Homo sapiens: one gene and its partners. Changing the gene in region 1 together with any one later gene gives a genetic interaction. Each region holds a gene or a part of one and is shown in the gene's direction. Other genes may lie near its edges. The genes, in order: CHD1, PTK6 and CKM.

Region 1 (3,650 bases):
TTCAGATACACAGTAGATCTTAAATATAGAAAGTTTTTGTTTACTTAAATCTATTTGGAAGTTTATATTTGAGCTAATAATTAAGCTGGAGCATGTATAATAGATTTAAATTGTTTTGACTGTTAGTGAAATTTCTAGATGAAGGCAATAAAAATTTTTTCACTCATCTTTTTCTGGCATTTTGTCTTCTATACCTGTACTGTCCAGTGTGGTAACCACTAGCCACATGTGGCTATTTGAACTCAATTACAAAATATTCAGAATTTACTTAGTCATACTAGATATATTTCAAGTGCTGAATAATCACATGTGGCTAGTGGCTACCATATTGGACAGCACATAGAAAACATTCTATCACTGGAGAAAGTTTTAGACAGTGCTGAGCCAGACATTTGTTGAAATATTACTGTGGCCCTTTTTTATTTTCAGATTGGAGTTTTAATTATCTGTGAAGGAGTTAAGAGTTCTTGCTTGGGTCAAGTGTTTGCAAAGAAGATTCTTTAAATTCTGTAGCTCTCAAATTTTGAGTTATCTGCACATTAGTTTACAATCCATGTAGTTATATGCATTATCATATATAGAAATTAGGAATGTGGGCACTGGAGTCAAACTGTTTGCTTACCCTATTTCTACCTCTTATTAGTTGTGTGAATTAGGGCAAATTACTTAATCTCTGAGGCTCTGATTTTTGCCCCATAAAGAGGGGATTAAACTATTGTTTATCTTATTTAAAGTTCACGGCTGGGCTTGTTGGATCCTGTTTGTAATCCCAGCACTTTGAGAGGCTGAGGAAGGAGGATCACTTGAACTCAAAAGTTGGAGACCAGTTTAGGCAGCATAGTGAGACTTTGTCTGTAATTTATAAAAAATAAAATTTAAAAAAAATTTGAGGATTGAGATGCTTCATGTAAAGGGCTTAAAATATTTTCTGAGATAATGAGCACTGAATATTTGCTTATTGTAACCAGCATGTTTTGTGTAACACAGGATACTATATAAAAAAAACATTAATTACAGTGATGGAGACATGGGGGTGGACAAGAAACAGGAAAGTTTTGGCAATTAGGAAGATTAAGAAAAAATGTTAGATAGAAAACTAAATAGTGGTATTTGTATTTGATCTGAAACTTGGACTTTTCTTTTTCTTTTTTTTTTTTTGAGACAGAGTCTTGCTCTGTCGCCCAGGCTGGAGTGCAGTGGTGTGATCCCGGCTCACTGCAACCTCCACCTCCCAGGCTCAAGTGTTTCTCCTACCTCAGCCTCCGGAGTAGCTGGGATTACAGGCGCTAGCCACCACTCCCAGCTAATTTTTGTATTTTTTTTGTAGAGATGGGGTTTCGCCACATTGGCCAGGCTGGTCTCGAACTCCTGGCCTCAAGTGATCCACCTGCCTCGAGCTCCCAAAGTGCTGAGATTATAGGCATGAGCCACCACGCCAGGCCTGACACTTGGAATTTTCTGACCTTGCTAGTTATACTTTAGTTTATCAGCTTTCATACATACTGTTTGGATAAGCAAGAACATCATAGAGAATAAAATAAGGAACAGTTATGGAAAGCAGCATTATTACTTGAACAAGTATTGGTCTAGGAGTTATACAACCTGAGTTGATGCTATCTCTGCATTAATTAAAACTCATATGATTGCCTCAACTCTAAGGATTGAACTGATATTGAAGTTTCATTTTAATTAATTACAAAGTGCATCGTAAAGTTTCAAACAGTAAAGTTTTACTAGAATCACCAGAGTTGAGGTTTAATTAAAAGACTTTTGAATCTGAGCTTTGATTCAAATCTCTATAGGTATGTTGACTACTGACTATAGTTAAGTAAATAGAAGAGTCATATTGTCCACCCACAATTTTTTTTTTCTTTTCTTTTCTTTTGAGACAGGGCCTCACTCTGTCACCCAGGCTGGAGTACAGTTGTGTAGTCTCAGCTCACTGCAGCCTCTGCCTCCACCTCCTGGGCTCAAACGATTCTCCCACCTCAGCATCCTGAAAGGCGTGCATGCCACCACACTCAGCTAATTTTAAAATTTTTTGTAGAGATGAGGTCTCACCATATTGCCTCAGCTGGTCTTGAACTCATGGGCTCAAGCAGTCCTCCCACCTTGGCCTCCCAAAGTGTTGGGATTACAGGTGTGAGCTGCCACACCCGGCCTCACATTTTCTTATTCATAGTTGGAATGGAATGGTTAGTAGGTAGAAATACCTAGAGGAAACAAAGGAACCAAACTATTCATAAAATAGGAGATAAGACTCGAGAGTAAATCTTCTAGTTGGATATGCAGACAGATCATGTGCTGGTATATTCTGACTACTTACCTGTTCCAATATTTTATATATTTTTCTGCCATATCTAAAGCGAGGAGGAGTAATAAGTCCAATTTGATACTACAGGTGAAAAAAAATTAAACCTTGTGGCCGGGTGCGGTGGCTTACGCCTGTAATCCCAGCACTTTGGGAGGCCGAGCAGGCAGATCACCTGAGGTTGGGAGTTCGAGACCACCTTGACCAACATGGAGAAATCCTGTCTCTACCAAAAATACAAAATGAGCTGGGTGTGGTGGCCTGTAATCCCAGCTGCTCGCGAGGCTGAGGCAGGAGAATTGCTTGAACCCAGGAGGCAGACGGAGGTTGCAGTGAGCCGGAGATTGCGCGATTGCACTCCAGCCTGGGAAACAAGTGAAACTCCGTCTCAAAAAAAAAAAAAAAATTAAACCTTGCGAAATCAAATTTAAGGAATCTTTTACAATGCATACTCATCTTAAATAATTGCAAAGCATATTTCTTTAATTATTCGGAGTTGTTAATTCTGCTATACAGGTTTTGTGTGCTTCTGAAAAGTGTGGTTATCAAGTTATCTAGTTTTTACAACTGCCTTGGAGTTTATCAGGAGAGAGACCTTCTTTTTTGCCTTCATTTTCTTTCTTACCGCTGCTATACTATGCTCTACTGTCATTAACACTCAATTCCCACTCCCTTCCCCAGAAGCTTTTGTCATAAGACATTACAAAGAAGGGAGATTGTGCCTAGTTAAAAGACTGAGGAGGTGAACTTTAGAGGTAGAGGGATTTTCTTGCAAAAAAAACTAAAGTTTCTATAACTATGAATATTAATATAGAGTAATTTTTTTTCTTTTTTTTGAGCCAGAGTCTTGCTCTGTCGCCCAGGCTGCAGTGCAGCGGTATGACCTCGGCTCACTGCATCCTCCGCCTACCGAGTTCAAGCAATTTTCCTGCCTCAGCCTCCCGAGTAGCTGGGACTACAGGCATGCACCACTGCATCCAGCTAATTTTTGTATTTTTAGCAGAGACGGTGTTTCGTCATGTTGGCCAGGCTGGTCTCGAACTCCTGACCTCAGGTGATCTGCCCGCCTTGGCCTCCCAAAGCACTGGGGATTACAGGCATGAGCCACCGTGCCTGGCCCCTAATATAATTAGATTAGAAATATACTTTGTTTCTAAAGTTGATATTCATTGTAAGTAGCTTTTTAAAGTAAATTTTGGTTTTTTAGTGGCTAGAATTCTATAATGTATTTTTGCTTCAAAATTTCCTTTTTCTTTTGTGAAAGTTTATTAAACGGAATAGAATTAAGAAAGAATTCATTTGGCATTTGCAGGTTACAGTTAGCTTTCTACTGAAAAAA
Region 2 (3,588 bases), on another chromosome or scaffold:
TCCCCACCTCAGCTGGCTCAGCTGACCCCAGGCTCTGCTCCACTCCCCTCTGCAGACTCTGATGAGAAAGTCCTGCCCGTTTCGGAGCTGCTGGACATCGCCTGGCAGGTGGCTGAGGGCATGTGTTACCTGGAGTCGCAGAATTACATCCACCGGGACCTGGCCGCCAGGAACATCCTCGTCGGGGAAAACACCCTCTGCAAAGTTGGGGACTTCGGGTTAGCCAGGCTTATCAAGGTAGGGCCCTCAGAGGGCGTGGCTGGGGTCGTGGCCGGGGCGTGGCCGGAGGGCTGGGGGCTTCCTGTGTGTGGAGCTGGGGACTCGGCTGGGAGCAGGATGCGGCCCCTGCCCTCGGGAGCCCAGGCTGGGCAGGGAGGTGGGAAGCCACCGTGAGTCCGGTGGGGCCCCCATTCTGAATGGCACGCACAGCAGGGCCCACCACGCAGCCGCTGCCTTGTTCACGTGCCTTGTTCACTGGCCCAGCCCTGGGCCCCTCTGACGGCCTGGGAGCCTCCCAGTTCCCTGTCCCCCGGGCCCTCCGGTCCCCACACACCTGCAATCCCAGGGGAAGTTGGGCTCCTGAAGGTGGTCAGGCCCCAGTGTGGCCTTAGCTGCAGCGGCCGTGCGTGGGTCAGACAGTGGGGTCATCACCGTCCCACTGCTGGGGCAATGCGGCCGCTGTGCCCGTCCATGCTTCGGGGGCAGGGCACAGGCAGCCCCCACGGCCCACTCAGCTCCAGGCTGATTGCAGGAGGACGTCTACCTCTCCCATGACCACAATATCCCCTACAAGTGGACGGCCCCTGAAGCGCTCTCCCGAGGCCATTACTCCACCAAATCCGACGTCTGGTCCTTTGGGATTCTCCTGCATGAGATGTTCAGCAGGGGTCAGGTGCCCTACCCAGGTACTGTCCCCACTGTCCCTGACTGGGCATGAGAGGCAGAGTGGGGGAGGTCCTGGGTAGCCGGCAGGGACGCTGGGGGGTGCCTCCCCCACGGGCTTCAGGGCCCTCCGCGGGCCATCGCCTGAACTCCACACCTGCACCATTCTCTGAGCACCCAGGCTGGTGCCTGGAGCTGCCTGTTGGAGCCCTGTCCAGAGGGAGGTGTTAGCAGTGGACAGTGTGCTGGGTGGCGCCAAGGCATGGCAGCTGAGGCTGCGGGGAAGGCCCCAGGAAGGGGCAGTGGATGGCTGGTGTGGCTTCTTGGGGGAGGGTAGGCAGGTGGGCCCCAGCTCTTCTCATCCCTGTCGGCCGCAGGCATGTCCAACCATGAGGCCTTCCTGAGGGTGGACGCCGGCTACCGCATGCCCTGCCCTCTGGAGTGCCCGCCCAGCGTGCACAAGCTGATGCTGACATGCTGGTGCAGGGACCCCGAGCAGAGACCCTGCTTCAAGGCCCTGCGGGAGAGGCTCTCCAGCTTCACCAGCTACGAGAACCCGACCTGAGCTGCTGTGGAGCGGGCATGGCCGGGCCCTGCTGAGGAGGGGCCTGGGCAGAGGGCCTGGACCTGGGATCAAGGCCCACGCGCTTCCCTGGGGTTTACTGAGGTGATGGGTGCAGGAAAGGTTCACAAATGTGGAGTGTCTGCGTCCAATACACGCGTGTGCTCCTCTCCTTACTCCATCGTGTGTGCCTTGGGTCTCAGCTGCTGACACGCAGCCTGCTCTGGAGCCTGCAGATGAGATCCGGGAGACTGACACGAAGCCAGCAGAGGTCAGAGGGGACTCTGACCACAGCCCGCTCTCTGGCTGTCTGTCTGCAGTGCCCGGCTGAGGGTGGGAGGCAAACACGCCTTGTTCCTGCTCTTCCCAGTTCAGCTTGGTGGGAGAAAGTCATTCGCGTGGCTCGGGACGCTCATGTAAATTTGGTTTTGGTGCTCAAGGGTTCTTTCCTCCCAGGGGCAGGTGTTTCTTTCCTGTTTGTCTTGTGTCTTGAGAGCTTGGCCTTATGACCAGTGAGAACTCTCTCCCTGGTCTCTGCCAGCCCAAGCATCACTGCCCGAGGCGCCAGCTCAGTTTCACCGTCCACGTCCACAAGGGGCTTTTCCCACCTTCACCTTTGTCGCTGGGTCAGTGCTGGAAAGCGCCCCTCACTCCTGCGCTGACAAGGGCCCTTCTCTACTGTCTGTGGGGTGGTTCCGGGCTGGGGGGGCTGCCTCCTTTGCACCTGATTTTGAAGGTGTCTCTTTCATCCATGGTTAAGTCATAAAAAGCTTATTGGTTTTGGTTTTGACTCACCTGAAAGTTTTTTTGGTTTAAAAGAAGAATAGGCGGGGCACGGTGGCTCATGCCTGTAATCCCAGCACTTTGGGAGGCTGAGGCAGGTGGATCACGAGGTCAGGAGATCGACACCATCCTGGCTAACACGGTGAAACCCCGTCTCTACTAAAAAATACAAAAAATTAGCTGGGTGTGGTGGTGGGGGTGGGCGCCTGTAGTCCCAGCTACGTGGGAGGCTGAGGCAGCAGACTGGTGTGAACCCGGGAGGTGGAGCTTGCAGTGAGCCGAGATCGCGCCACTGCACTCCAGCCTGGGCGACAGAGCGAGACTCCATCTCAAAAAAAAAAAAAAAAAAAAGAAAGAAAGAAAAATAATTTTGGGAGTTTCTGGAAAGGTACTAGGATTTCTCAAAAGGATTTGTCTTCTGCCTTGTGAAAGACAGATGTCAGACTAATCAGGCTTATCCGATGTGCTACATGAGATGGAAAGCGTGTGAAATAGTAAGTCACACTAAGTCTTCTGGAGGTTCTATTTACGGGTTTGGTTTTGATATGAATGTTGCAGAAACTCTATAAAATTCCTAGAAATCTGATACGTTATCCTATGATATATATCCTATCTCACATGCTATTCCTAGAAATCTGGTGCAATGTTATCAGTCATAATTTTGGTTATTACATTAAAATGCTGCATGCCACAGAAATAACCAAGTTTCCTTGCCAACCGTGTCACGAATATAATAAACTCTCATCAGATCCTGAGCCATGGCTATCTTAAGTCTTCGGTCATTCACAGTTATTATCTTACTTTGATTTTTTCTGAAAGCTTTGCAATCAGCTAGTCCCAAATTGTTTATTCTTCAAAGAGATTCCTGGGAAGGATTCTGACAGGTGCTCTGGAGCACAGGTTTCTGGTTCAGGTCATAGCCTTGGATTGGGTGCAAATTTCCAGAACTCGAAGGAGGGACCTGGCAGGTCCATGAAAGTTCTGTCCCAGGATCAACCAGAACAAGAATTAATGACATGGGAATGAATGAACTGACGAGGATGTTTACTGTTTAATGACTTTTGTCTGAAGCATTACGGTTCTTTAATATTTTGTTTTCCAGATGTAAGAAAACGTTTTTTGTTTCTGTTTTTGTTTTTGAAGACAGGGTCTTGCTCTGTCACCCAGGCTGGAGCGCAGTGGCGTGACCACAGCTCATTGCAGCCTTGAATTCCCAGGCTCAAGTGATCCTCCCGCCTCAGCCTCCTGAATAGTTGGGACTACAGGAATGCACCACCACACCTGGCTAATTTTAAATTTTTTTTTTTTTAGGAGATTCAGGGTCTTGCTATGTTGCCCAGGCTGGTCTCGAACTCCTGGGC
Region 3 (3,650 bases), on another chromosome or scaffold:
CTCGGGAGGCTGAGGCGGGAGAATGGTGTGAACCCAGGAGGTGGAGCTTGCAGTGAGCCGAGATCGTGCCACTGCACTCCAGCCTGGGTGACAGAGCGAGACTCCGTCTCAAAAAAAAAAAAAGAAGAAGAAGAAGAAAAAAGATGCCAGCTAATCTTCAATCTTCCCCTCCTGCCCTGCCCATCAGGTCTCCTACACCGCCACCATGCCATTCGGTAACACCCACAACAAGTTCAAGCTGAATTACAAGCCTGAGGAGGAGTACCCCGACCTCAGCAAACATAACAACCACATGGCCAAGGTACTGACCCTTGAACTCTACAAGAAGCTGCGGGACAAGGAGACTCCATCTGGCTTCACTGTAGACGATGTCATCCAGACAGGAGTGGACAACCCAGGTGAGCCTCCCCAGTGGAGCACTGAAGGGGCTACATGGGGGCTCTGGAGGCTGCCGGCCATGCCCCAATCCCACCACCCTTGAAGGGGGGGGGGCCTCAGTTTTCTCATCTGTAAAATGGGGCTGTTGTGGGAATCAATGCATTAATATACATAAAGGCTTGGGACAGTGCGAGGTACTCAGCAAACCACGCAATAAACATGCACGAGAATAATGTGAGATCCCCAAGGAGGTCGGTTCACCTCCTGAACCTCAGTCTCCTCATCTGAAAAATGGGCGCCCACGTTGTGAAAACACAAGTCAATGGCTGTGCAGTGCTTAGAGTGGCACCTGGCACCAAGTGAGTGCTCAAGCTCTGACAGGGGGGCCAGGTGCAGTGGCTCATGCCTGTAATCCCAGCACTTTGGGAGGCCCAGGTGGGAGGATCACTTGAGGCCAGGAGTTTGAGACCAGCCTGAGCAACATAGCAAGACCCTGTCTCTACAAAAAATACAAAAAAATTAGCCAAGTGTGGTGATGAGGGCTTGTGGTCCAAGCTACTCAGGAGGCTGCGGTGGGAGGATCGCTTGAGCCTGGGAGGTGCAGGTTGCAGTAAGCCGAGATCGCGCCACTGTACTCCAGCCACAGAGTGAGACCCTGTCTCAAAAAAAAAAAAAAAGAATCTGACAGGGGATGTTATTAATGTTATGGTTGTTTCTCAAAGGACATTGCAAGGCGAAGAGAGCTGGGAGTGGAGGGGAGGCTCTAGTGCCCCTCACATCCAGCTCACTGTGTGATGCCGGGGAGAAGCCCCTCTCTCCTGGCCCCTGTTTTTCCACTGGGAAACAAGAGGGTCTTTCAAGTCTCTTACCCTCCTGACCCTCTGTGGTACGGTGGTAGCCTGAGATCCTAACATTTCAGGCTAAGATGTCATGACTTTGGGTGCTAATGTTTCCGAGGTGCTGATGCTTTTAGCACCATGTACCCTCTGAAGCTCCCCTTTCTCCTTTGACCCCGCCCCCAGCACTCTTTCTTCTCTCCCACCTTGACCCCTCCCAGCCACCTTGACCTCTCCCAGCCTTCCCTCCCAGTTCCCACCAGTCCTCAGTGTTCTCTCTTTTTTTTTTTTTCCTTTGGAGACAGAGTCTTGCTCTGTCACCCAGGCTGGAGTGCAGTGGTGTGATCTTGGCTCACTGCAACCTCCACTCCCTTGGTTCAAGCAATTCTCATGCCTCAGCCTCCTGAGTAGCTGGGATTACAGGTGTGTGCCCCACACCCAGCTAATTTTTGTATTTTTAGCAGAGATGGGGTTTCACCCTGTTGGCCAGGCTGGTCTCACACTCCTGACCTCAAGAGATTCACCCGCCTCACCCTCCCAAAGTGCTGGGATTGCAGGCATGAGCCACTGTGCCCAACCCTTATGATTCTCAATTCCCACCCAGAGGTATTGAATGTACCCGCCCCCATCCCGACACACATGTCCACACAGGCTCCACTGAGCCCACAAGCCCACGCCCTGTTTGCTGGGGACAAGCAGCTCTGACCTCACCCCCACCCCTCCAGGTCACCCCTTCATCATGACCGTGGGCTGCGTGGCTGGTGATGAGGAGTCCTACGAAGTTTTCAAGGAACTCTTTGACCCCATCATCTCGGATCGCCACGGGGGCTACAAACCCACTGACAAGCACAAGACTGACCTCAACCATGAAAACCTCAAGGTCGGTGTCTGCGCAGGAGGGGAGGGCCGAGGGGTGAGGAGGAGAGAGATCACAGGAGAAATGGGGGGAGACAGAGAAATACAGAGACAGAGAGAGACACAGAGGTGTGGAGAAGCAGAGAGATGGAAAGAGAGAGGGACATTGGGAGGCTGAGGCGAGCGTATCACTTGAGGTCAGGAGTTCAAGACCAGCCTGGCCAACATGGCAAAACTCTGTCTTTAAAAAAAAAAAAAAGGGCTGGGCACGGCGGTGGCTCACGCCTGTAATCCCAGCACTTTGGGAGGCCAAGGCGGGCAGATCACCTTAGATTGAGAGTTTGAGACCAGCCTGACCAACATGGTGAAACCCCGTCTCTACTAAAAATACAGAATTAGCTGGGTGTGGTGGCACATGCCTGTAATCCCAGCTACGTGGGAGGCTGAGGCAGGAGAATCGCTTGAACCTGGAAGGCAGAGGTTGTGGTGAGCAGAGATCGTGCCATTGCACTCCAGCCTGGGCAACAAGGGCGAAACTCGTCTCAAAAAATAAATAAATAAATAAATAAAATAAATTAGCTGGGCATGGTGGCGCGTGCCTGTAATCCCAGCTACTCAGGAGGTGGAGGCAGGAAAATCTCTTGAACCCAGGAGATGGAGGCTGCAGTGAGCTGAGATCATGCCACTGCACTCCAGCCTGGGTGACAGAGCAAGATTCTATCTCAGAAAATAAAAAAAGGAAAGAGAGAGGGACAGAGAGACACAGAGACAGCCAAGGAGACACAGACAACCAAGGAGACAGACAGACAAAGGAGAGGGAGAGGGAGAAGAAAGGCACAAAAGCATGTAGAAAAGGAAGAGGCATAGCCGGGCACAGTGGCTCACGCTTGTAATCCCAACACTTTGGGAGGCTGAGGTGGGCGGATCATAAGGTCAGGAGTTCGAGACCAGCCTGACCAACACGGTGAAACCCAGTCTCTATTAAAAATACAAAAATTAGCTAGGCATGCTGGTGTTCACCTATAATCCTAGCTATTCAGCCTGGGTGACAGAGCGAGACTCTGCCTAAAAAAAAAAGGGTGGGGGGAGAGGCAGAGACACAGAGGGAGACAGAAGGGAGCATCAGAGAAGGCAGGAGAGACAGGGAGAGAGAGACACACGCAGTTGCAGTCAGACACAGACAAGGAGAGTGGGAGAAAGGGAGACAGGAAGAGAAACAGAAATGGGCAGAAAGGCTGGGTGCAGTGGCTATACCTGTAATCCCAGCACTTATGGAGGCTGAGGTGTGAGGATCACGTGAAGCCAGGAGAGTTCACGACCAGCTTGGGCAACATAGCAAGAACCCGTCTCTGCCCAAAAAAAAGAAAAAAAAAAGCCTAAAAATTTAGCTAGGCATGGTGGCTCATGCCTGTAATCCCATCACGTTGGGAGGCTGAGGCAGGAGGACTGTTTGAGCCCAGGAGTTTGAGACCAGCCTGGGCAACATAGTGACACCCTGTCTCTATTTTTTTTTTTTTTTTGAGACAGAATCTCACTCTGTCACCCAGGTTGGAGTGCAGTGGCTCGATCTCAGCTCACGGA

What was found.
Region 2: changes in CHD1 (region 1) and PTK6 together harm fitness more than expected from each alone (negative genetic interaction), as found in Homo sapiens cells (one large-scale study listed by BioGRID).
Region 3: changes in CHD1 (region 1) and CKM together harm fitness more than expected from each alone (negative genetic interaction), as found in Homo sapiens cells (one large-scale study listed by BioGRID).

Annotation. Positions count from the first base shown.
Region 1 is NC_000005.10:98,922,486-98,926,135, reverse strand, and holds part of CHD1 (chromodomain-helicase-DNA-binding protein 1), read left to right. Parts: intron 1-3,650. UniProt on the Homo sapiens protein: ATP-dependent chromatin-remodeling factor which functions as substrate recognition component of the transcription regulatory histone acetylation (HAT) complex SAGA. Regulates polymerase II transcription.
Region 2 is NC_000020.11:63,527,395-63,530,982, reverse strand, and holds the end of PTK6 (protein-tyrosine kinase 6), read left to right. Parts: intron 1-55; coding exon 56-237; intron 238-751; coding exon 752-905; intron 906-1,259; coding exon 1,260-1,447; 3' UTR 1,448-2,982; downstream 2,983-3,588. UniProt on the Homo sapiens protein: Non-receptor tyrosine-protein kinase implicated in the regulation of a variety of signaling pathways that control the differentiation and maintenance of normal epithelia, as well as tumor growth.
Region 3 is NC_000019.10:45,316,269-45,319,918, reverse strand, and holds part of CKM (creatine kinase M-type), read left to right. Parts: intron 1-187; 5' UTR 188-205; coding exon 206-398; intron 399-1,939; coding exon 1,940-2,094; intron 2,095-3,650. UniProt on the Homo sapiens protein: Reversibly catalyzes the transfer of phosphate between ATP and various phosphogens (e.g. creatine phosphate).